2 separate regions of the Homo sapiens genome follow, and region 2 is linked to region 1. Evidence: fine-mapped expression QTL. A gene starts in region 1. The other region holds a variant in brackets. All regions are shown on one strand. Distances are from middle to middle.

Region 1 (12,312 bases):
CAGCAGCCAGGGGCACTAACCAAGGTCACCAGCAAGTGACGGGCATGGCCACAGTGCACAGGGCCCTCAGGAACAGCTGCTGGCCACAGGGGGTTGGGACTAAATGGCTTTGGTTTTCCAATGGACTCCCGGGAGCAGCAAGAGACGGGGGTGACACCTTCCGTTGGCATCTCCCAGGGATCGAACCACCCAGGAGCTCTTGCAAACCAGGCACCAGGGATGCCCTCCTGCCCCTCTGGCGCTCCTGAGCAGGTCTTAAGGAAAGGTGGCTGACCCTGACACAGGCCAGGCTGCCTACAGCAGCTGGGAAATCTGCCCTCGGGACACAACAAACACCAGGGCTCAGATTGTATTTAGGGGTCAAGTGGGGCTACAGGCCCAGCGGGGCCCTGCAACCTCCCCCTTCTCGGGTCTCCCATGCAAAATGTGGACAGACTCTGCGTGACAGGGGTTTTGCTGGGATTAAACGAGACAAAGAACCTAAAAGCCCTTTGTAAAGGATCAAGTGCTAGATAAAAATAGCAGATCTTTATCAGCCGAGCCTTTCCTTTTTAGGGCTGACTCTGTGGACAGCTGTTGAGGCTGCATTGTGGCCAGACTTTTGCTTCTGCATTCTGGAAAACCAGGGAAACTAGCTTGTGAGATTGCTAACAACCAGAAAGACAGAAAAGGGAAAAAAAAAAAAGTCAAAGCGCTACGTGGGAGAGCCCGAGGGCCTGCTCCACAAATCAAATTCACCGACAAGGTGAGGCCTGCTAGCTTTATGGCAAAGGGCAGCCTCGCCTTTCCGCCTTTCCGCCTTAATGCTGGTCTGCAGAACTTGAGCTGGGTCCCGTGTCTCCCTGTCCTGGGGGAGGGGCTGGGCTCGGAGGCCCCACCGAGGGAGGTTAGAGAAGACAGAGCAGGGAGAAGGTGAGGCTTCCACGGCCCCAGCTGAAGAGCAGCAGTGGCAGGTGTGGCAGAGAAGGGCAGGGGTTCCTGCCAAGACCCCTCACTGTGAAGGCTGGGGATCCCCCACCTTACCTAGACTGCGGGTGGGCACTTCTCTCTCATGGCCCTGCTGATGTCCCCCAGCACACACCCGGGCTCAGCCACGCTGCCACCCTCCCAGCTCCGCTCCAGCCTGCAGAGCCAAACCCTCAGAGGCACCATTATGAGCAGAAGTGCAGAAGGCAGCATTACAGGCTACCAGAAAGTAGACAGGAAAGCGCAGATGTCCCTGCTTGGAGGCGAAGGCATTTCCTCCATAAAGCCCCACACAGAGGCAGAACTCCTAAATCCCGCCCCAGCGCTGCCTCTGCCTACTGTGCCCAATCAACACCAAGGCTCAAACACCAAAGCCCTGGAACCCTCACTGTCCCTTTGGCCCTCAAAGCAGCCTGTGATCTCGGGGTATTTACACCTGTCTGGGGACAGTGGGGCATCAGGGAGCCTGGGCTCAACCCAGAGCCCTGGCCCCTTGGGATCCCTGGTGCCCAGCTCACTAGAAAGATGGCCGAATGGCCCACCTTCCTGAGACCCCAGCCGCACCACCTATCATGCTGGGGACCCAGAAAAATGTTGCTCCCCATAGGAAGCAGTTACTGACAGTGAGGTATCTGAGGAGGGGGGCTCCCATTTAGATAGTAGAAAAATATTGCATATTGTTTCCAAGGCAACAGAGCTCTCTGAGCGAAGGGCGCATGAGCCGGAAGTCCAGGGACCCGAGAGAGGCCTGGGCCTCTCCCTGCAGGCTTAAACTGAGACCCACAGGGGCACTCATTAAATGATTTACCAAAGCCAGGGCCAAAATGGTCAGGGGGAAACCAGCCAACTGTAGCATTAACTCGGCAGACCCCCACAGCTGGAAGGGAGCGCTCCCGGGCCCCATCCCCCAGTAACAATGTCCAAATTAACTGCAAGCCGATTTAACGATGATTGCAGATTGCAGCCTGCCTGGAGGGGTTCGGCAGCCAGAAACGCACTCCTGAGGCCCAGGCTGAGAACAGGGAAGATGGGGGTTGGGGAGGCAGTCTCATCTCACCTCCCCCACATCTCTCCTGGTCCTCAGCAGCTTTCTTTCCCAGGCTCCAGACCACAGAGGCCAGGGCACCCACCGAGTGTGTGTGTCTTGTATGTGTTCAAGACAGAGCCTAGCTGGGGGAGAGGAGAGTGGGCAAACACTGTCCACCTGAGCACACAGAGCCCAGTGGTCCAGAGGCACAGATGCCATCTGCCAACAGGGTCAGGGGTCCCCATCACTCTCCTGTCCTCCCTTCCAGACTGCAGGCCCCACGGGCAGCATCTGTGCAGATGCGCTCTCGGCTTGGCTGGGCCAGGCGAATTCCCTCTTCTCTTCCATCCCTGATAGTCAAGGCATCTCCAGACAACAAAAGCTCACTGCTGGAAGAGCCCTCATGGGGAGAGGGAACTTGGAGAGAGTGGGGCGGTGGACAGAGGGGCTGGCCAGGTTGTGCCTCTGTGATTTCACCATAAACATTTTTTCTCCACACTAAGAGAAACTCATCCTCACTGGCAATCTGCTGACGGTCTTGAAACATGCAAGGACTGCTGAGAGAAGAGAGCAGAAATGAGGGAATGGAGAGAGAAGCGGCAGGAAAGCAGAGAAGCCACCGTGGGGCCTGCCGGGGCGCCAAATCCCAGGAATGGACGACAGCCATGAAAGTCCCCACGCTGCCACAGGGAAGGACCTGGATGGAGCAGGGCCGCTGCTCCACAAAGTGCTTTCGGGCCAGGCCCTCTTGGCCAGTGGGCATCAGGACACTGGGGTAGGGCTAAGCTGGCCAGATTTGCCCTCCTGGCTGGCACGGGACCCTCCCCCAACCGCTCCAGGAGACCCAGCTCCTCCTGCCGAGGGCCTGAGACCAGGACACACTAGGAAACTGAAATCTGATCCCCAGGTATGCAGGCTGGGGAGGGGGTGACACAGGACCATTAATCAAAGGCAAATGCCAAGGAGAAAATTACAGAGGTAAGAAGATGATTGTATTTAACTTGTTTTTCTCCCCTTACAGCCCCAGCTCGTGAGCCTCTACATGCCCACATCTGTGCGTGCATGTGTGTGCATAAGTGTGTGTGTGTGTGTGTGTGAGTGCAGGCACAGGCAGGGTGTGGGGAGAAGGGGCAGGCTAAGAGGGGCATGGCCAGCCAGTGGGCCCCCAAAGGGGAGGAGGGATCCAGTTGGCGCTGGGAGGGAGTGCTTTGCTGTCCCAGGGGGTGCTTCCGGTCCAGCCCACTTCCCAAGCTGGCAGTGTCCCAGCTCCTCATTATCTCAGAGTCAAAACACCAGGGGGGGAGGCCGGGCAGCTGGAAGCCCAGCTGGCCCCCACCCCCATCCCTCCCTGGCCCACTGAGGCACTTCCTTCCAGTCTCAGGTCCACAGACAAAATCCTCCTTGTGTTGCAGTTTTTGCTCAGAAGCAGGGGCAGTGCCCACCGAGAGGGTGCTCCTGCCGCCTCACCCTGCCCCCACCCCGCCCTCACTCTGGGCCTGGACACAGGTCAAGAACTGCCCCAACGCACAATCATCTGTTCACCGCACAATCATCTGTTCACCGAGTGCTCCTCCTGCGGATCACTTTTTACATCTTGTTTTGGGCCGGGTGTGGTGGCTGACACCTGTAATCCCAACAATTTGGGAGGCTGAGGTGGGAAGATCACCTGAGGTCAGGAATTTGAGACCAGTCTGGCCAACATGGTGAAACCCTGTCTCTACTAAAAATACAAAAATTAGCCGGGCATGGTGGCAGGTGCCTTTATTCCCAGCTACTTGGGAGGCTGAGGCAGGAGAATCACTTGAACCTGGAAGTGAAGGTTGCAATGAGCCAAGATCGTGCCACGGAACTCTAGCCTGGGTAAAAGTGAGACTCTGTCTCAAAAAAAAAAATAAAATAAAATAAAATAGATAAAATAAAATAAATCTTGTTTTGGAGTCCAGTTCAGACACCAAGGAGGGTTCTGGGGTCACTGCCAGCCAGAAGAAACGTTTTAATAAGCTTTCCTGGGCATTCCCAACAGTACGGGACAAAATCTACACGCCCTGCCCTGAGAAAGCAGCCTCCTGGCTGCCATCCCTCGGCTCACAGAGCTACAGCTGAGAAATGGGCCTCCTGCCTGCTCACTGCTGGGGGCAGGAGACGAGGCCTGGCTCCTTGCCAGAAACTGGGTAAGGAGGAAATGTGCGGGTTGGCCAAGTGGGGCAACAGGAGGCCCGCAGAAGTGAACTGTTTCCAAGGCTCCAAATCTAGCAGGTGATGGGCAGAGCCAACTTGCAACACCTAAAGTCCCTCTGCACCACGCCAGGGCCTTGGGAAGCTGTGAAAGTTTACTAACATGCAGTTCTGTCCTAAAGATGCCAGGATTCTAATTCTTTCCCCAGATCGCATAGTCCTAAGCTCCCCCTTGCCAATTAGAGAGGGAGGGGACCCTGCCCAACTGACAAAGTTTGAGGGAGGAGGTACTCAGCAGGCTCAAGGCCATTACAAACAGCACGCAGGAAGATGTTGATATTTCCATTTCATGCTGGGTGAGGGGGAAGAAAGGACGCTCAATTTCAGAGCCTGATGAGAAGCCAGAAGCTAGGATGTCAGTTATGCCCCGAGATGCAGGTCTCTGTCAGACTGCCCAAACCCATGCCATCAGCAGGCTGCGGCTGGAGAATGTGCCGCTCCTGCAAAATCTGGGGGACCTTCTGATGGAGTTGGAATAACACCCTCCCACTGTCTGACCTGGTCCTCCCTCCTCAAATATCTCCAGGAAGAGGTGGCTAGGAAAAGAGATGGGCAAGCGTGCTGCCTCCTGCCCCCATCCCTGCCCCTCCCCAGGCTGAGTGGAGGGCAGCTTCCCTTCCAAAGAAAAGGAGTCTTGAAGAACCCCTTGCAAACTTTTAAAGCTGCAGAACCATCTTCTTCAAATATGGAGCGCCCCCTCCACCTAAGCTTCAGATGAAAAGGGGGGAGCTGCTCTCATGGGGTGCACAGCAACCCCCAACCTCGCCTAGGTGGTTGTTGAACTCTTGTGGCTCTGAGCCACTGGTTGCTGCAGTGACCACCATAAAAGGGCAGGGGGTTCTCAGTCTCCTGGCATTCCTCACTCAGGGTCTCTGCCCAGGCTGACACCCAACTCTGACGGCCCTCTCCGGCGCCCCCTCCTCCAGGGTCCAGGTCATCCTCTGCAGGCCCCTTAATGCCCCAGGCAAGACTGAACCTGAGCCACAAAACCTGGGGAGGGGGCTAGGCGTTCAGGAAGACTCTTCAGAAGCCTGCATCTGGAAGTGGGGAAGCAGTGGACAAAGACTTTCTCAGTCCTGCCTCAATGCGGGGTGGGGAGGCGGGGAGGACATGGGCTTGGTAAGCCACAAGACCGCTGGGGGCGGCGCCCACGTAGACACCTTTGCCAGGCACAATAAAACCTGGCTGGGCCAGCTCTCCCTCCCTCCCTGTCCCTGCCCGCCACGCGTTCTGCCCCCTGCGGGCCCTTCCCGGACACAAGGCACGCAGCTCAGACAGTTTTCCACGGCGGAAATGCCTTCTCTCCCCCCCGGCCAGAGGGAAAGTGGAGGAAGCCGGGGTAGGGGAGGGGGATGACAGGGGTGGGGGAACGCGCACAGAGCCCGGGGACCCAGGATGCAAGGGCACTGGGGCAGTTGGGAGCCCTCCCCGTGGGGTCGGGGGACAGCCCAGCGAGAGGCTGGGAATGGAGAAAAGAGAGGGGAGCAGGGAGGCCCAGACGGCAGGGCGTGGGGTGGGAAGGGGGCACCCGGCCTCGGACCCCCGACGTCCAGAGGCCGCAGCGCCGTCGGTTCTGGCTGATTTCCATTTCATCACTTTCTGGTCTGTCAATTCCGGTGCAGGCCAGCAGCACATCCTCTGTCCCTCGCAGCCCCCAATTTCGGAGGAAATCAACGGCCCCACCCTCTTCGTTGGTACCAGACCCCCCCACCCCCAATTCCCCAGCCAATCAGGTCCCACCGCCCTACTTTGGAAAAACTACGTCTAACCCTCCTCCCATCCCCCACCTGGGGACTCGACTCGCGGCTTTCCCAGTTGATTGGAACCAGACGCGTACCCCCCCACCAACATTCCTCGAACTTCTTCGGACCAGCCCCCTCCCCCTATAAGGCGGCGAGGGGGCCCCCACTTTTGGAAGAGACCTCGAGCACTTCTCCACCTGAAGACCAGAACCAGACGCCTCCCACTCTTCGGACTTCAGCTTTTGGCTGCCGCTTTAGTACGGGACTTAAGCCCCCTCCTCATTCTGGGATAAGCAACCATTCGAGACTTCCCAACCCTGCTCCACCCCGGGCTCTGGGGCCCTGACGCGCCTCGGGCAGTCCCCAGGGCCGACGGGGCGCGCCTGGGTCGTGAGCCTGGGTCCCCCGCCCCACCGCCTGAGCCCCAGACCCTCTCACCCTAGCCGGCGTCAGCAGGATCTCGGTGGCCGAGGCCGGCGCAGGGGCCGACGCCGACGCCTTGTCAGCCTTGTCGCCCTTGATGCCAGCCACGGCGGGCTGGAAGCTAATCTTCACCATGGCTGCGCCGGCCCGCGCGTCCGCCCCGCAGCCTCTGCCGGTGCAGCCTCGGTCTCTGCCTCCGCCGCTCCGAGCTCTGCAGGCACCGGAAGTTTGGATCCCGCTCGCGTCCCTCTCTCTAACCCCACCCCCAGCCCTCCCCGCCCCGTCCCCGCGGGAGGGCCCCGGCGCCCGCCGCGCCTGCGCCCCCTTCCCGCCCGCGGGGCCCGCAGTGACCCCTGCCGGGCGCGCCGCTCCGCACCTGGGGCGGGTCGGAGTTCCTTCTGCCGCTCGCTCGCACAGTCACTCACTCGCTCGCTCACTCACTCACTCACTCACTCGCTCACTCATTCATTCAGCCGTCACGCTCGGATCCGTTCTCCGTAGCATAATCCCTTCGCATTCCCTGTCCAAGGCCAGCATCCCCGCAACGCAAGTCTTTGTTAACCCAGTGTTTGCCAGGCAAATGCAGCTTCCAGACAACTCACCCGTCTCTCCTGCCCCACTTCAGGTCTTCCCCTTTAGAAACGCTGGAGCCTCCGCTCTACCTGTCCCCACGCCCCCCTCCTCCGACCTGTCCTTGGCGCGGGGAGGAGGCTTTGAGACAGGCGCCAAACTGCTGCCTCCGTCTTGCCTTCTGAAGCCATCCACGCCTCCTTCATCCTCCATCTTGCTTCTGCCTTCATTCTTTATTCCTGCAAAACCTTCCTGGGGGGTCCTGGGGTGCACGCTGGAGCCGCCTGGAGTGGAGAAGGGAAGGCCGCCCCTGCTCCCTGGCTCCTTCGTGTTGCTGCGACCTCAGTTATTGGGTGACCTCCTGAACTGCCCTTGTCTCACTCATCCAGGAGGACCCTGGCGAGAGTGGAGGGAAGACCCCCAGGGCGGGTGTCAGAGGCTCGGGTTCCACTCAAGACTCTGCTCCTCCCAAGTATCACGGGTACTGGGGAAGCAGGGGCTTCTGTTGCTGGGATGGCTGCTCTTGGCACTAACGCCCTGAATCTTTCCTCTTTGCTCCTGGTCCAGACTGGGCCAGGGACAGCGCCCAGCAACACACACAGGTTGTGCTGAGTGGTCCGCTTTGGTTCTGCTGTTGGGCTGCCAGTGGAGGGCAGGGGAGTCCGTCCGCTTCTTGAGGACAGTCCGGGGTCCTCCACTGATCTCTCTTCTCACCTTTCAGGTCTTTTGCAGCTGCCTTGGGCCCTTAGCGCCCACGTCCCAGACCCGGACCTCTTGGCTCAGATCTTGGATGAACCTAGCAACCTTGAGGACAGACAGGTGGGGAAAGAAGAAAGTCTAACTGATGCTAAGGCCACCAGCCTGGGGAACTGGGGGGAGGGAATGGGGAGGTGGAAGAAGACAGATGGTTTGGAGGAGACGAGGAGGAATCTGGTTTGGCACAGAGCCAGAGAGGAAGGTGTTATGGACTACCGCTCATCACCTGCTCCAGATCCCATGGGAAACCTGGTGTCTGGAGAAGGCAAGCTCCACGTCTTGCTTAGGCCACACCCCCAACATGCATTCCTTCACTCAGTGTTTTCCAAGCACCCCTGTGTGCCAAGCATTGTGTTAAGCTCTGTGGCAGAAAACAGAGATGCCCAAGACACAACCCAGCCACCAAGGATGTGGTCATGTGAAACCTTCTATGAGTGGCATTCTTTCACGTGCATTCAATTATTTAATTTTCATCACAGCCTCTGTGACCTACACATTAGCCTCATGTTAATAGTGATAGAAGGTAGCATGACTAAACCCAGGGTCGCAGAGCTGGTTTGGCACAAATCTCTGGTCAGCAAGACAGGGCCACCTGGGTGAAGCATCCACATGCCTGAGATTGGCAGGCGAGCACCCCACTTCCCCTGGAAGGCCTTCCCAGACCGGCTGGGATAAGTCCCTTTCCTGTGCACCTTCAGCACTGTGCACATCCCCCTCGGGCCTCTCCTTACGCTTGACCATGGACTCAATGCCGGCCAAGTGCTGGGCGTACAACCTAGTGCAGTGATTCCTAAATTTTTTGGTTTCAGGACCCCAAGAGCTTTTGTTTAGGTGGCTTATGTCTATCAACATTTACCATATTAGAAACTAAAACTCAGAAAGTTTTAAGACACAAGAATACATATATTCCATTGGGCATCAAAGCGATGTCATCACACATGTAGTCTCTGGAAAACCCCACTGCACGCTAATGAGAGAATGAGAGTGAAAAGGGCAAATAATGACTTATATTGTTGCAAAAAATAGTTTTGACCTTGGAGACCCCCCTGAATGGGTCTTGGGGGGCACCATGCTCTGCAGATCACCTGTTCAGATGCTCAAGAATCCATATTCCATGGATTCTAAGAAACACATTTCTTCACATTTTAACATCTTGAGAATCAAGATATCTTTTACAATTATAATTGGCAGTGATTAAGTAATGTCTTTCACAAGTGATAGCATCTTATATTTGATGGAGTACAGTATAGCCAGTCAATAATCCAAGGGGAGCCAGGAGGCTGCGGGAGGTCCATGTCGCATACTGAGTTTTGTGGACTCAGGGAAGGACAGCAGGGTGAATGCGGTCGTGGTGCAGCCCAGGCTCCATGCAAGACAGGAGATTTGGGTGGGAACTGGAAAGACACAGGGTGTGGACAAGTGACAGGGAAATGAGAGTCCGCACTGGGAGTGAGGAGAGTGACTCTGGGCCAGGAGCCCTCAGCTCAGTCCAACAGCCATTCCTGCCAGCACCTGAATCCTCTTTGTTCTGTTCTTGCATCTTACCCAAGTGGCAGAGCTTCTCCTGTCCCCCTTTCTGGTTCCAGGTTCTGCTCAGGGACTGCTAAGTTCTGTTGGTGAAAGTGATACCATCATGCCCCTTGGGACCAGCATGCTACCTCCTCTTGGAGGGGCATGGTGGCAGCCATGCAAAGCGGTCCCCTTGGAGCTGCAGGGTGGGACAGCTGTGGCTTCTTTAACCAGTCATTCTCCAAGCAAGGACCTCGGCCAGCAGCCCCAGCAGCACCTGGGAACTTGTTAGGAAGGCAAACCCTTTCTATGTCTATTCCGAAACTCAGGGTGTGTTCTGTGCCCACCAAGCCCTTAGTGATTCTGATGCACACTCGGGTTTGGGAACTGCTGCTCTGTCACTCTGTCCACACTCTCAACGGCCACATCCTGCCCTCTCCAGACTGCTGCACACCTCTCAGCAGCTCAGCTGCTGAGGATCTGGAAGCCATGGCTTTAGGTGGCTTATGTCTATCAACATAAGAACGCCCTCCTGCCTGCCAGCACATCCGCCCCCATCCACAGCTGCCCTTCTGCCCACTGCTCCTCCTGCCACTCGCCGCGGAAGAGGCGTCTGTCTTTTCTCTCCAGCCACTCTCTAGATGAGGATTCCACCCCTCCCCTCCTATCAGACACCTGAGACATCCATCAGCCCCCGCCTCCTAACCTTTCAGCTCTTCCTGTCAGCTCTGAAACATGCTCGTATTAGCCTTAAAACAAAAACAAACCCCTTCTTTGACCCCACGTCCTCCTCCACTTGATACCCTGTTTATCTTTTCTTCTTCTTAGCCAAACCTCTTGAAAATTCAGTCTCCATTTCCTTATCACTCCCTACACTCATCCTACCTCAATCTGGCTTCTATTCCTCCACCTCCACCTGGCTGAAATCTCCAAGCTGCTTTTCAGTCCTCATCTTCCTTGCGTTGATTTTGAGCCTCTTGGCTGAGGCCTCTCCACTAACTCTTCCCTTCCCTCATCAACTCTGGTGTGATTGGCTCCAGTGGGAAGGGCTGTTGGAATCAATCCTGCAACAGTTCACTTTGAAAATAAAATCTCAGGCTGTGCACGGTGGCTCCTGCCTGTAATCCTAGCACTTTGGGAGGCCAAGGTGGGCGGATTGCTTGAGCCCAGGAGTTCAAGATCAACCTGGGCAACATAGCGAGATCCCCGTCTCTAGTTAAAATAAAATCAGAAATGAGAACTTTTACATGTATTTGCCTGTTTCTCAAAATTTAGAAGTTGAATGTTGTTTGCAAAGATATCTAGTTTATTACAATTTAAAGCACTGGTTATGTAAGACTTATGGTTGTAACAAATCCATAGAGGGTCAGTAGATTAGCTTTCTGGAAATGTAACGGGCTCAGACAAGGGTGTGCCCATTGTCCTCAGAGTTCTTCTCAAGGAGAAGTGTGCTCCATCAATCACATGCTCTGAGTAAGGGAGTGGGTGAGTTTGAGATCCTGTTCTTCTGACAAGAGCAGCAGCTATCTTCAGCTCCACCTCCCCTACCTCCACCTGCCCCCTTCAGAGGCCCCTCTTTTCCACTGAGGAGCTAGCTGAAAGCTAAGTGTTGAAGGTAATTAAAAAAAAATTTTAGGTAAAATGAAAAACTATTTTACAAAGATATATATTCATGTATCCAACAAACCAATCAAGATACAGAACATTTCCATAATTCCAGAAAATTTCTTCCCATTCTTTTCCAGTAAATCCCCACCACCACTGGCAACCACTGTTCTGGTTTCCATCACTATAGATTAAGTTTTATCTGTTCTTTAATTTATTTTATTTTCTTTTTCTTTTTCTTTCTTTCTTTCTTTTTTTGTTTTTTTTTTTTGAGACAGAGTCTTGTTCTGTCACCCAGGCTGGAGTGCAGTGGCACCATCTTGGCTCACTGCAACCTCTGCCTCCTGGGTTCAAGCAATTCTCCTGCCTCAGTCTCCCGAGTAGCTGAGACTACAGGTGTGTGCCACTACACCTGGCTCATTTTTTTAAAGGAGGTTTTTAGTAGAGACAGGGTTTCACCATGTTGGTCAGGCTGGTCTTGAACTCCTGACCCCAGGTGATCCACCCACCTTGGCCTCCCAAAGTGCTGGGATTACAGGTGTTAGCCACCATGCCTGGCCATGTTCTTGAATTTCATATACTGTACAACATGTATTCTTTTGTGTCTAGTTTCACTCAATATGTTTATGAGGTTCATCCACAATAGTTTGTTCTTTTTACTTGCTGAGTAATATTCCATTTTTTAAATACACTACAACTTGTTTATCCATTCTCCTGACATGGACATTTGGGTTGCCTTCAGTCTTCCACCATAAAATTGCTATGGACATTTCTTTACATGTATTTTTGTTTTAATTTCTCTTGAGTAAATAGCATCAGTGAGGATGAGGTAGAAATGGCCCACCCTACAAGACAGACATATTTTATCACTGACATTGTTTAGAAATGCGAATGCATTGTGATGATGTAAAGTAGATCAATTTTTAGTTAGTTTTATTATAATTTTTAAATTCTGTGCAGAAATTGCACTCCCTTATTGCCTGATCTGGACAGACCATTCACATGACTCTCTCCCCATTTCAGCACAGCCCTGCCAACATATCTGTGCTATTTTACACTCCCACCAGCAATGTATGAGAGTTTCAGTTGCTCCACAACTTTACCAATATTTGGTGCTGTCAGTTATTTTAATTTTAGCAATTGTATTTAGTAAAATTTTATGTTATTGTGGTTTTAATTTGTATTTTTCTGATGACTAATGATGCTGAACATCTTTTTATGTGGTATTGGCCATTTGTATATCTTCTTTTGTGAAGTGTCTGCTTAAGTCTTTTGGTCATTTAGACTGTCTTTTAATTATTGATTTGTAGGAATTCGTTTTATATTGTGGATACAAGTCTTTTGTCATGTATATTCATTGTGAATATTTCCTTTCAGACTGTGGTATTTCACTTTTAAAATTTTGTCTTTTCATGAGTAGAAATTTATAATTTTGATCAAGCTCAATGTATAAATTTTAATTTTATTGTTAGTGCTTTT
Region 2 (12,312 bases), 41 kb before region 1:
AAGAAGCTGTAAGCCATGCTGCCTTTGAAAAGGACAGTTGAGGCCTTAGGGTACAAGGAGGCTGACTTTCCTACGCTTGTTCTTTTGTTCTCTTCGAATATCTTATTGAGCGCCTGGAATACTTTTAAAATTAATAAAAAGCTATGAAAAATAATAACAGAAGCTTTAATTAATAACAGAAGTTTTAGGAACAGGTGCGGGGCCTCCCGCCTGTAATCCCAGCACTTTGGGAGGCCGAGGTGGGTGGATCACCTGAGGTCAGGAGTTCAAGACCAGCCTGGTCAACATGGTGAAAACTGATCTCTACTAAAAATACAAAAAATTAGCCAGGGGTGGTGAGCGTGGTGGTGCATGCCTGTAATCCCAGCTATGAAGGAGACTGAGGCAGGAGAATCGCTTGAACTGGGGAGGCAGAGGTTGCAGTGAGCCAAGATTGTGCCACTGCACTCCAGCCTGGGTGACAGAGTGAGACTCCATCTCAAAAACAATAAAAATAAAAATAAAAATAAATAGCTGCAGTGGTCACTAGTATGGGATTCTCTGGTGGGAGTCCATGCTGATGTCTCCTCCCTGATACATCGATATCTTGGGATCTCAGCACCTGCTAGCCAGGAAGTCATGGGAGGTGGGAGAGGCACAGGAAGGTGGGTCTCACGGCAGGACCTGGCCGCACTTGCTCACCCAGCTGCTTTCTGCCGAAGTGGTTAAGGAAGATGCCAGGCATAAATGTCCTTTCCATGCCATGCCCCTGTGCTCTAGTGAATGTGGCACATTCCATGTCTAAGGCCAGTCCAAGTCAAGTACACCAGCAGCATGGCCTCACATGTGGGGAGAGGGAAGAGTGGGTGAGAAAGGAGGGAGCAGGGAGGTGGGCAGAGGCGGGCAAGTGGGGAGAGGGTGGAAGTTGGGTCGTATTTGAGTCCTTCTAGCAACCTGGTTCTGGATGCCTGGATTGAACACTTGGTTTTTTCCTGCTCCAGGGCTACATACCTTGATGCAGAACCCCACAATGGCACTCACCCCCTCACCCCAAATTGACCAGGCTCGGACCACACCCCTGTGCAACCACACCTGCAGCCTTGGTCCTCCCGTCCCTGAGGCCACTTCTAATTTTCTGCCCGACAAAAGGCCTTTCCTTGCCCTGTGGAGACCTCAGGGCCCCGCTCCATTCCTTCTGGGAATGCCATTTCTCCCATATCTCTCCATTTTCTGTCTGGTTTTCTCTTTGGGGTACAAGAGGCTGCAGCAGCTGCAGACCTTATATCTTGGCAACTATGAATCCCTGACAAGGGACTCCAACCCTCTGCCTGGAAACCCAAGCAAAAGTTGTGTTGATTATCATGGCTTCTTGGAGAGTCAAATATCTGTCCCTGAACCAATGAACTAACCAGCTACTGTGTCCAGGGGAATGCAACGCTCTGGTGTCAATCATCCCTGGTTGCAGGTTGACTGTGTCCAACCATCAGGAAAGTGGGTGGGAGGAGGACAAAGGAGACAAAAGGAGCTGAGTCCTGGAAACAGCATTTGAATCCCTGATCCAGCTGCTCCTGAAGTCAGCCCTACCCTAGTTTTCATGTTTTCCATTATGTGAAACTGTCTCTTTGCTTCAGCCTGTTTGGGTCTGGGTATGTGCTGTTACTTCTTTCAACAAAAGGAGTTCTGATTTAAAAGACAGATGTCCATGCACAGCAGGTTCTATATTTGTCAAAGAAAAATGTGTGTATGGTAGAAAGAGAGTGAGAAAGCGAGTCTGGAATGATATACACAAAAAGTAACAGTGGTTGCATCTGGGCAGCAGGATTAAAGGTAATTTTTCTTTTCTGTGTTCTAGTTGTGATTCAATGGGCATGAATTGCTGTGTGATGCTGGGGAGGTGTTTGTGATTCTTGACAAAGTCATTTGAATCCATCACTTCAAGAGAGTGAAAGGAGCCCCGTCTGATCTGTTGGTGTTGTAGGAAGAAACATGAGTCAGCAAAACACCAGTGGGGACTGCCTGTTTGACGGTGTCAACGAGCTGATGAAAACCCTACAGTTTGCAGTCCACATCCCCACCTTCGTCCTGGGCCTGCTCCTCAACCTGCTGGCCATCCATGGCTTCAGCACCTTCCTTAAGAACAGGTGGCCCGATTATGCTGCCACCTCCATCTACATGATCAACCTGGCAGTCTTTGACCTGCTGCTGGTGCTCTCCCTCCCATTCAAGATGGTCCTGTCCCAGGTACAGTCCCCCTTCCCGTCCCTGTGCACCCTGGTGGAGTGCCTTTACTTCGTCAGCATGTACGGAAGCGTCTTCACCATCTGCTTCATCAGCATGGACCGGTTCTTGGCCATCCGTTACCCGCTACTGGTGAGCCACCTCCGGTCCCCCAGGAAGATCTTTGGGATCTGCTGCACCATCTGGGTCCTGGTGTGGACCGGAAGCATCCCTATCTACAGTTTCCATGGGAAAGTGGAAAAATACATGTGCTTCCACAACATGTCTGATGATACCTGGAGCGCCAAGGTCTTCTTCCCGCTGGAGGTGTTTGGCTTCCTCCTTCCCATGGGCATCATGGGCTTCTGCTGCTCCAGGAGCATCCACATCCTGCTGGGCCGCCGAGACCACACCCAGGACTGGGTGCAGCAGAAAGCCTGCATCTACAGCATCGCAGCCAGCCTGGCTGTCTTCGTGGTCTCCTTCCTCCCAGTCCACCTGGGGTTCTTCCTGCAGTTCCTGGTGAGAAACAGCTTTATCGTAGAGTGCAGAGCCAAGCAGAGCATCAGCTTCTTCTTGCAATTGTCCATGTGTTTCTCCAACGTCAACTGCTGCCTGGATGTTTTCTGCTACTACTTTGTCATCAAAGAATTCCGCATGAACATCAGGGCCCACCGGCCTTCCAGGGTCCAGCTGGTCCTGCAGGACACCACGATCTCCCGGGGCTAACGGAAGGACATCCTGTTCAGGGGAAGAAAGCCCTGGCCCTGAATTCTGGTAACGGATATCGCGTTCCAGGGTTTTGATGTGGTGGGATGATCCGCACCATCTTCACTGATGTGCTTCCCTTTGATGCCCATTGAGTGCCAGCTTTGCTCATTATACCCCAAAGACCTTTTTTCCACTGCCCAGACAGCTTATACCACCCAGTGTTCAGGGATCTCTGAAGAACCCACAGACCAGGTGAATTACTGATTTCTAAGTCCAAAAACTATAGAGCAGAAGAATTGAGAAAGAGAATGAGACCATGTCAACAAGGCTGTTTCCAACTCTCCCCATTTTCCTGTTCGACTGGGAGGTTCTGGAAAGAAAGAGAGAGAGAGAAAAGAGGTAAAGGAGGGAGCCAAGAGAGTCAGTTATTGGGGAGAGTGTCTTGGGCAGAGGTGGGGTGGTAGGGATGAGTGAAGTCCCTTTTTAGTTTGGGTGTCCCAGAACAGAGCAGACTTGCATTTTCCAGTCCCTTCTGGAACTGTGTTGCCAAAAGCCTCACTGAGATGACAGCAAGAAGGGGTGGTGTTGGGGCTGGGCAAGTAGCATGGATCACCCCAAGTTTCCAGTGAGCCTCAGAAAGGTGAAGGAAGCCAGCCACACCTTTCCGTGCCCGTGAGAAGACTGCAAAATGACTGAGTGGGGTGTTGATGACATCCAAGAGCCATGAGGGGGGAGAGGAAAGGACACTTCTGGGGAAGGAAGAAGACAGGCCCAGGGCTGGAAGCACACAGCCCCTCCCCTATCACCATCAGGGTGTCCACAGCACGGAGTGTTGGTGCTGGCCCAGGGTGAAGAGAGACAGTGAGAGACGGCCTGGGAGCGGGGAGACCCCGACCTGCTTTCTATCTTAAACAGACTGGGAAGTTGCTCATTACAGCTAGCTTCCTTGAAAACAATGGCAAAGAATCAGGCCTGCCTTGGTTCCACCATAGGAGGGTGGAGGAGGTGCTGTCTTACTCACCTGCATCCTGGCTGGGCAGCTGGCACCCGTGGCACTGCCCATGGAGCCGTCCCTCCCTGGCAGCTGGGAGGGAGATGAGGCAGCTAGGCACAAGGGTGTGGCCTTGAGAAAGAAGGCAAGGGGGGGTCCCTGCTGGTCCCAGGAAACTGTAAACAATTGAGTCACGCCTGGATGGCTTCTCAACGGATCTGGAGGAGGAGTGCAAGTGACAGCGGAAGCCTCCCAATGACTCAGCTGCTCCGGAGAGTGAAATGATGAGAAGGATCCATTGTGGGGTGGTTTTGCATGACAGAGCGAGTGGGATGAGGAGTAACTGATGAGACTTCATGTGAGCAAGGTCTTCAGGAGGAAAAGCAACTGAGGTCTACTTGTAGGATCTGGGCTCAGTGGGGGCTGAAGGGCTTGGGAGGGGTGGTGACCTGAGGGGAAGAAGAGAAGCATTTGGATAAACCTGGACCTGTGGGGAGGAGGAGGAGGAAGAGGAAGAGGAAAAGGAGGGGAAGCTGAGCCGTGGCCCTAGGCTTGAAGCCTGCAGGGAGTGCAGGGTGGGTGGGGAACCTGGCTGAGCTGCTTCCTGCCTGAGAGCTTTCCCAGCTGGCCTAAGAGCCATGGACGGACAGGAGTCGCCTTCTCAGGAGCAGCTCCCGCTGTTGCTGTGTTCAAGTGGCACCCTGTACACCTCCTCCTAGGTGGATGGAGGGAAGGGTGAGGAAGAGAGCGTCAATGAAGGGGTGGAAGTGGATGTGGAGGAGTGACCAGACCAGACCAGACCAGACCAGAGGGATCGGAGGCTCAGGCCCCCTGAGCTGGGCCTCTAAGAACCACAGCCACAGAGTCAGGCTCTGCAGACCCAGAGGTAAGGCTGCCTGGCTGCCCCAAACCCCAGACACTCCTCTCCTTGCCTGCAGGCTGCCCTCTCCCATGGCCACCCTAGACAGAGACCCACCCGTGATACTCTGAGGGAGCCAGACTTTCACATGCAACGGGGCATTTGGGGCTGGTTCGGGTCAGTGTCTACGGGTGGTGGATTTAGTGACCACCCTCCTCCCACTTCTTTCTCTGCACGAGGAGTTGGGAGCCTGCCTGGTGGAGTTGAGTGATGCCCGTCATGTGCACTTGGGTCTACCAATGTGCTTAAGGCCAGATGGGCTTCCTAAGAGACAAGGGTGGGTGGACCTAACCAACTATCATCCCCAGCGATGTTCAAACATAAAATCTTATCTATGTGCAGCATGACTCTCTCCAGGTGACAGAAAGGGCTCTAGACAGCTGAGAGGACCTGATCATGTAGGGAGGGACGGGGAGGGGAGCCAGGACCCAGGAGCTGCATGGCTGTAAGAGGAAGGTCCTTGGAGGGTATCAGCAGTCTCAGTGTGATGTGACAACTATGGACCTGTGGGTGTGCCCTGGGGACCCCTGACCCATCCCAAAACACTGTGGAAAGAAGGGCCTCTTCTCCGTGGGGACCCGTGTCTGTGGGAGCGGGCACAGGTCCATGCTGCAGGCCACTACGGCTGCTCGGCAGGAGGGCCGAGAGTTTGGACCCACATAGCTGCAACCCAAGCTGGCCCATAATCAGCAGTGGGGCCCAGCAGCACAGGAGGGGCGGACGGTTAGCTTTGGAAAAAATGACTTGATTAATCTGATTCGCCAAATAAATAGATTCATGTGATGCCTTGTGACCTTGTCTTGGACTAAGCTTACTGGACCCGGAGAAGAGCAGGCCCCAGATGGCCCCTGCCAGGTCACCCAACAATCTTGGTCTCTTCAGCAGCCACCTGGCCACCAAGTGTGGGGCTGCAGGGAGTGGCCCTCCCTGCTCAGGAGCACAGCTGGGCCTGTCCAGGTGACCAGGAGCCAGACCCTTTGGGGTCTAGTTTCCACTCCCCCACATCCACACGGGTGCTTGGTTCTCTGTGGTAGCAGCCAGGCTACACAGACCCCGCATACTCGGCTGCAGTCGACCCCACCCTGCCCTTGCCACCTTGTCCCACCACCACCTTGTCGCACTGCCACCGTGACACTGCAGCTGCTTCTACAGGCCCTGGCTTCTCTGCATACACAGGGGTGGGGGGCCCAGTATGAGAAACCTGCTGACCGACTGAGGGGCTGAAGAACTGAGGGGCTGAAGACACAGGGCCAGTCTCTAGAGGTCCTCCTCGGTGGCCCTTCCCTCCCTTCTCTGACCTCCTGTGGTGGGAATCCGACTTTCCAAGGGTGGATTCTCCTAGGTTCTTTTCCGCACTTCACAGTGAATTTTGCTAGCCTTTGGAGAGCTCCCAGAAGCTGTGCCCTGCTAGGCTCTGGCCTGGGCCACTCTCTGTCCTGAGTTCCCCACAATCCCGAGCGCAGCTGATCATGGCGTGGGTGCTGAGGGCCAAGGGGGACATCTTTGCTCCATCTAACCATCTCCTACTAATCTAGGAGCCACCCCCCATGTAGGCCACGTCCCCTAGGGATAGTGACCACCTCCGCTTGGCCCCAGGGAGGATTTGACTTGGAGAATGTCAGTTCACAAGGTGCATTTGTCAACTATATTCCTCTTGAGTTACCTCTCTGGGGACCCTCGGAAGCTGAAAGTCATGATACTAATACTATGTAATTGCCACAGGATACCAAAGACCTCTGGAAGCGTAAGATAACACCCTTGTAGCAAGACCACAAAGGGATGGAGATTGCAAAGGTGCTTGAAATGACTGAGGCCTGATAACAGTTGTAGAGATTCCTAGAGGTTAAAAAGGATTCAGTTAATAGACCAGTGCGGAAAGAAATTGGGCAGAGCCACTGTGTGGGTGTGAGGAGAGGCTGGCGTGCAGAACAGTCAAGAGGCAAGGGTGGGGACATCCCCATAGCAGGAGGAGCTGTGTGGGGATGCCCACGCCAGACCACCCTTCAACTGTCCTCAAGAGTCAGTTGTACTGTGGACAGCGACTTTCCAGGGCCAAATAAAGGCTGGCAGGGACCACTTGACAACCTTACCACTGCGGGGGGACAGAGGACTCAAAGACATGCCAAAGGTGCCTTTTCT[G/C]GGTGAGCACTCCCCTGAAACTACCATCACAGGCCCCACTGGCTTTTTCCACCCAGAGCTGGCTTCTCTAGTGAGCCGAGGGCACAGAGCCATGAACAGCCATTTGAGGGGGTGTGGATAGCAGGTCAAGAGGGACTCCAGGAGCTTGAAGTGGAAGGACAAAACAGACGTCCCTCTGCCCCACTGCAGGCCTGAGCGCTCCCTCCCAGGCCAGGAGCCTGCAAGATATGACCTCCTTGCAAAGCTGTTGCAGAAAAGGCCACATGGTGCCTCAACCATGAGTCACGACAGAAACGTGGCCCTTTGTGCTTTGAAGTCTCGTGAGGTAGGATCAGAAGCACTGTCACTTCAAAGCCAGACGCGGCTCTGGTTCACTTTTGAGGCTTCAGATGACAGCTTTATTCCGGAGGCCCACGCCTGAGTGAGTGTAACAAAGACGCTGCCTGCAGGGGGGACCTGCATCTCCACCGGGGCCAGCACAGTTATGCAAAGGCTGCTTAGGGTGCAGACAGATGTCTCCAAAAAGCCTCTCTTCTCAGTAGGTGGCTTTGGGCTGTGCGTAGTGCAGATGAGAATGCATACACACGTGTGCGTTTCTCGTTCAAGTGGTGTCTCGGAGCGGCTTGCCGGTGGAGGCCACACAGAGTTTAGGAAAGTTGTGCCAGAGTTGACTAGATCTGGCTAAACCCAGATTTTCCAAACAGCCGATTCCCCAAGTCAGTGCCTAGTGCATTTCAGACGGAATGACCCTGACTGGGGAAAACTGATGTCCAATGACCCAGTGATCGCTGTGTGAGCCCCCAGCCAAAGCACAGTTCTGGGAGTGGGTGGAGGGGTTTCCCTGAGGGCAGTGGAGAAGCCTTGAGGCCAGTGGGCCTGGAGTGGTTAAGGAGGGCTCCAGAGGACCGGCTCAGGGTGGGACATGTTTGTGGGGATGGGTCTCCAGACAGCATTAGGTAGGTGGAGAGACCTCTCCCTCCCCAAGATGGGCCACGCGTTGCTGGGCACTGGGCACTGGGCACTGGGTGTGGCCCCCTTCGGCAGTAGATACCAGCCTCTTTGCTGTGGATTTCCTTCAGTTTCCTAAATCTTCAGTACCAACTTCAAGTCGCAGCCAGGGCACAGCTTTCACCAAGGGGAATCAGTATGAGCTTTACAGCAGAGCATGAGACCCAGAGATGCCTGGAGGGGGGAACCCACAGAAAATAGGACTTCCCATATTAATGGAGTGTGAGGAGCAAAGTCATTATTCTCTGAGTATTATTAAAGGGTATATGACCCCAAAGACAGGACTATTTCAATTATATGAACAAAGTGGGATGAAATTGATGGTTAAGAGATCTGTCAGCTATTGATATTTCTTCCCTGGGACTTTACACTGCAAAAAACACCCATATATGGCAAGTATGTTGTCAGTCTACCTGAGCTGCCATAATAAAACACTGCAGACTGAGTACCTTAAACAACAGGAATTTATGTCCCACAGTTCTGGAGGCTGGAAGTCTCAGATCGAGGTCTGGCAGGGTCAGTTTCTGGTGAGGCCACTCTTCCTGGGTTGCTGATGACCACCTCCTCACTGTGTCCTAAGAGGCAGAGAGAGAGGAAACAAACTCTCTGGTGTCTCTTCTGCTAAGGACATTAATCCTACAGGATCAGGCCCCACCCTTACTTCATTTTACCTAAAAGCCATGTCTCCAAATACTGTTACACTGGGGGTTAGGGCTCCAGCATGTGAATTTTGGGGGGGACACTTCAATTCACAGGAACGGCTTCTAGGCTAACCTGGAGTAGAAGTCACACTTCTCTTATTTCTTCAAATTGAACGTAACTTGCCCTAATTCACCAAGGTTTACTGGAGGATGCTCCAGCTCCATTTCACTGGATCCCTTCCGCCCCCAAGATCCTGCGCGGGTCCTAGCTGGGGCATCCCTTGATGACTGCACTGTTTGCAGAGAACCCTGGGTTTCAGTCCACACTGGTCACAGCCATGGTGCCCATCGAGGACTGGGCCTTTCAACAGAGGCATCCGTATGACACTTGGGCACGCAGCTCACTCCTGCAGGCCCCAAGCCCTCCGCGTTAAATGCTCTCGCACCTTCATGTCTGAGGCTCCTTCAGCAGAATGCTTGTCTGGGCTCTTCTTGGGAACCACAGTAGCCCTGCACCTTCCCCGGCTGACCTTTGGACTCACAAACCTAGCATCCTTTTCAGGTAGGGCTTTAGGCAGCCTCTGAGAATGATGAAAGCTCTGGCACTAGGTCTTTTGTTTTGTTTTTCCGTTTGTTTGTTTCGTTTTAAGACAAAGTCTCACTCCTGTCTGCCAGGCTGAGTACAGTGGCATGATCACAGCTCACTGCAGCCTCAACCTCCTGGGCTCAAGGGATCCTCCTGCTTCAACCCCCTGAGTAGCTGGGACTGTAGGTGCACACCACAATGCCTGGCTAATTTTTGTATTTTTTGTAAAGACAGGGTCTCGCCATGTTGCCTGGGCTGGTCTTGAACTCCTGGGCTGAAGCAATCTACCTGCCTTGGCCTCGCAAAATGTTGGGATTACAGGCGTGAGCCACAATGCCCAGCAGGCCATGGGGTCTTAATTCATCTCGTGCCATCGATCCTCCTGCAGTCAGGAGGAAGCCTGTGGACCTTCCCCAGAAGGGCAGTTTCACATGCATCAAGTAAAAATGCATGGAATTAGAGAGGAAACCAGATATATGGAAATGTAGTCACCAACGTAGCAATATATGTTTCTTTAGGCACTGGATAACAAGATCTAGTGATGGGTTTAATGATTATCATAATTTTGAATTTATGATGAACTGAGAAGTTATTTTGAATTATCTGCAGCAACTGTAGTGGGATATGAGAGTATCTGTGATGTCTATTGGTGACAAGTCCCAGGAACCACACCATCTATCGTACTGTGGTGTGATGTCTACGTGCGTAATGGAAGGAAATGCTACCTTCAGTTAGTGATTAGTGAAAATAGCATGTAATGTTTTCCCTCAGCAAGTTCATGACACCCGTGAATTCTACTCCTGATCCCCAGGTTGAGAACTTTTGGGTTAGGCAGAGACATAAGGAACCTGGGCACAGGTGTTCTTCCTCTGGTGAAGGATCATTTGTGTGCCCGCTTTGTTATGCAAATGTGAGCCCCCAGGGTCCCATCCTCTTCCTCTTGGGGTTTGGGCTGACCCAGGACCTTTGTTTGTGGGGCTTAGAGAAGCTGGCCGGCCCTCTTTGTATGCCGCACTATAGGAAGCAGAGTCCCAGGGCCCTCTGAAAGCAAAGACACCCATATCCCAGTCCCCAATCTCAGAGATGCAAAGTCAGGGATACCTGTCTAGGAGTTGTAGGGCAATCCAAGAATCAGTGGCAGGGGCAAGCAATGAGGCCCCCAAAATAAATCACCTTGTGTTAAGGGGGATCTCAACTGATAACACTGTTCTGGCCAGCATGGAACGTGGCTGATACTGGACACCCCTTCAAACCCAGCCGCCCTGCCCCAGGAGCTATGCTTTGGGAAGGGATGGCCGAGTGTGAAATGATAACTAAGAAGAGTCTTAAGCCTGAACCTCAACCACCAAGGGCATCCCAGCGTCTGGGGCAGCAGCGTCCCTCCTTGAGACACCAAGCTGCAACAGTGTCACCTTGTGACAGCTTGGAGAAACAGCAGCAGGGGCTGATGGAACCCTGGCTCTCCTCCCTCAGGTGTGGAAGCAAAGGAGGTCCCTGGGGTCTTTGAGTAATTTGGGGGCAAGTCTTCTGCCTAAAAGACCCATAGGGAAAAATAAATTAAGCAATAAAAGAAATTTGACCATTTTGTAATCTAAGTTGGTGAAGTAGGTCATACCAGTTTCACCATCATCATCGTCTTATATGATATTTTATTACTATTACTGCCTCCTGGCATGTATCTATGTAGTAAGTTCCACTATCAGAGGATGACCTTACCTACCTTTATGGTTTTGTTTTTGTTTTTGTTTTGTTTTTGAGACAGAGTCTTGCTCTGTTGCCCAGGTTGGAGAGCAGTGGTGCTATCTCAGCTCATGGCAACCTCCGCCTCTCGGGTTCAAGTGATTCTCCTGCCTCAGCCTCCCGAGTAGCTGGGACTACAGGCACCTGCCACCATGCCTGACTAATATTTTGTATTTTTAGTAGAGATGGAGTTTCACCCTGTTGGCCAGGCTGGGCTCAAACTCCTGGGCTCGAGTGATCCTCCCGCCTCAGCCTCCCAAAATGCTGGGACTACGGGTGTGAACCACTGCATCCGGCTCCCTAACCTTATGTTATAAAAGTTCTCATGAAAGTACTTGGGGTCACCTAATTGTCACCCCATCAAGCATCTCCAAGGCCCAACCACTCCCAGCAGATTCTGCCTTTGACACGATTGTGAGTCCTTTTCCCAATTCCTAATCCCCTCCTGTGGTATCCCCTGTCCCCACCACTGCAAACTACCACCCTTCTTCCAGCTTGCAGCCATCTCTCTCCTCCTGCTCTTCATCACCTGCTCTTAGGGGTCAGTTGCCTCTGGTATAACTTCTTGGCCAGGGTTGTTCCTCCAAGGACTATATACATTGAAACTGGGAGCAAAGCTGTAGTTCAAACCAAGAGAGAAACGCTTTTATAAATACTGTATCTCCAGTGACTCTGAAATTGCGGCAAACAGGCTGCACAGGTGGGGTCCAGCACCGACTTCCCAAGGCTGCACTGCATCTGAAACCAACCAAACCAGGTGAGGGGGTGGCATAAGGGAAGGAGCACTCCCTTGGCAGGATGGGGCTGGGGGGTGTTTCTGGTTGCTGTGCATTACCATCCATCTCCGTCACCCCTGGCCTTCAGGGAAGTCTCCCACCAGTTCTCCCTGGAGTCAGCTGTCCTTTATTGGAGAAAGAAAGGGGGAATGTGCTCCCTGTGGGCTCAGATACACGTGGAGGACAGTTCCTGTAGGACTCAGGGCTCAGAGGAGAATTTGGCAGTTTCTACGACTATGATGGGAGATGCTAGGGTTCCCACTGAATGTGGGATAAAATCACAAGCCCTTCTGCTTGGAGATTTAAAAAGGGGGGGTGACCCCATAAAGCTGGAGGAGTTGGGGCTAGAAACAGGTCTGTAACAAGACCTTGGCTTGAAGGGAACTATTGTGCAGACGTGGAAGCTGAGGCCCATGGGGGCATGAGCAGCACCAGCTCTCTGATGCCCTTGTAAGTGATTTTTGCATGGCACCCCATGCTAACACCCACTCTGGGTCTCTGTGTCCTGGCCCACCGTACCCACTCCAAAATCCTCTCAGGGCTCTTCAAAGATCCTGAGCCATCAAGGGGCGACCCATCTGCTCCCCAGTAGGGGCTGTCACAAG

What was found. PIP is the estimated chance that this variant, and not a neighbour inherited with it, causes the effect.
Region 2: its variant is fine-mapped to the expression of ITM2C in whole blood (TOPMed, PIP 0.96).

What each region holds. Positions count from the first base shown.
Region 1 is chr2:230,859,242-230,871,553 of GRCh38, reverse strand. It overlaps ITM2C (integral membrane protein 2C), which reads right to left and starts at 6,612. Exons shown (of 6, transcript NM_030926.6): 1 at 6,409-6,612. The coding sequence starts at 6,528. RefSeq lists enhancers at 689-1,346, 5,296-5,952, 5,953-6,611, 7,270-7,928, 9,054-9,664 and 1 more and silencers at 5,413-5,512, 6,303-6,392, 6,493-6,862.
Region 2 is chr2:230,900,616-230,912,927 of GRCh38, reverse strand. It overlaps GPR55 (G protein-coupled receptor 55), which reads left to right. Exons shown (of 2, transcript NM_005683.4): 2 at 1,832-5,600. The coding sequence starts at 1,966. The coding sequence ends at 2,925. GCSIR (GPR55 cis regulatory suppressor of immune response RNA) reads right to left here. Exons shown (of 4, transcript NR_038238.1): 4 at 8,411-8,539. Among named protein-coding and RNA genes, the nearest start is that of GPR55, 18 kb to the left of the region's middle. RefSeq lists enhancers at 3,982-4,101, 4,112-4,221, 3,277-4,476 and silencers at 10,391-10,450, 10,521-10,600. The variant G/C (reference allele first, on the strand shown) is at 6,957.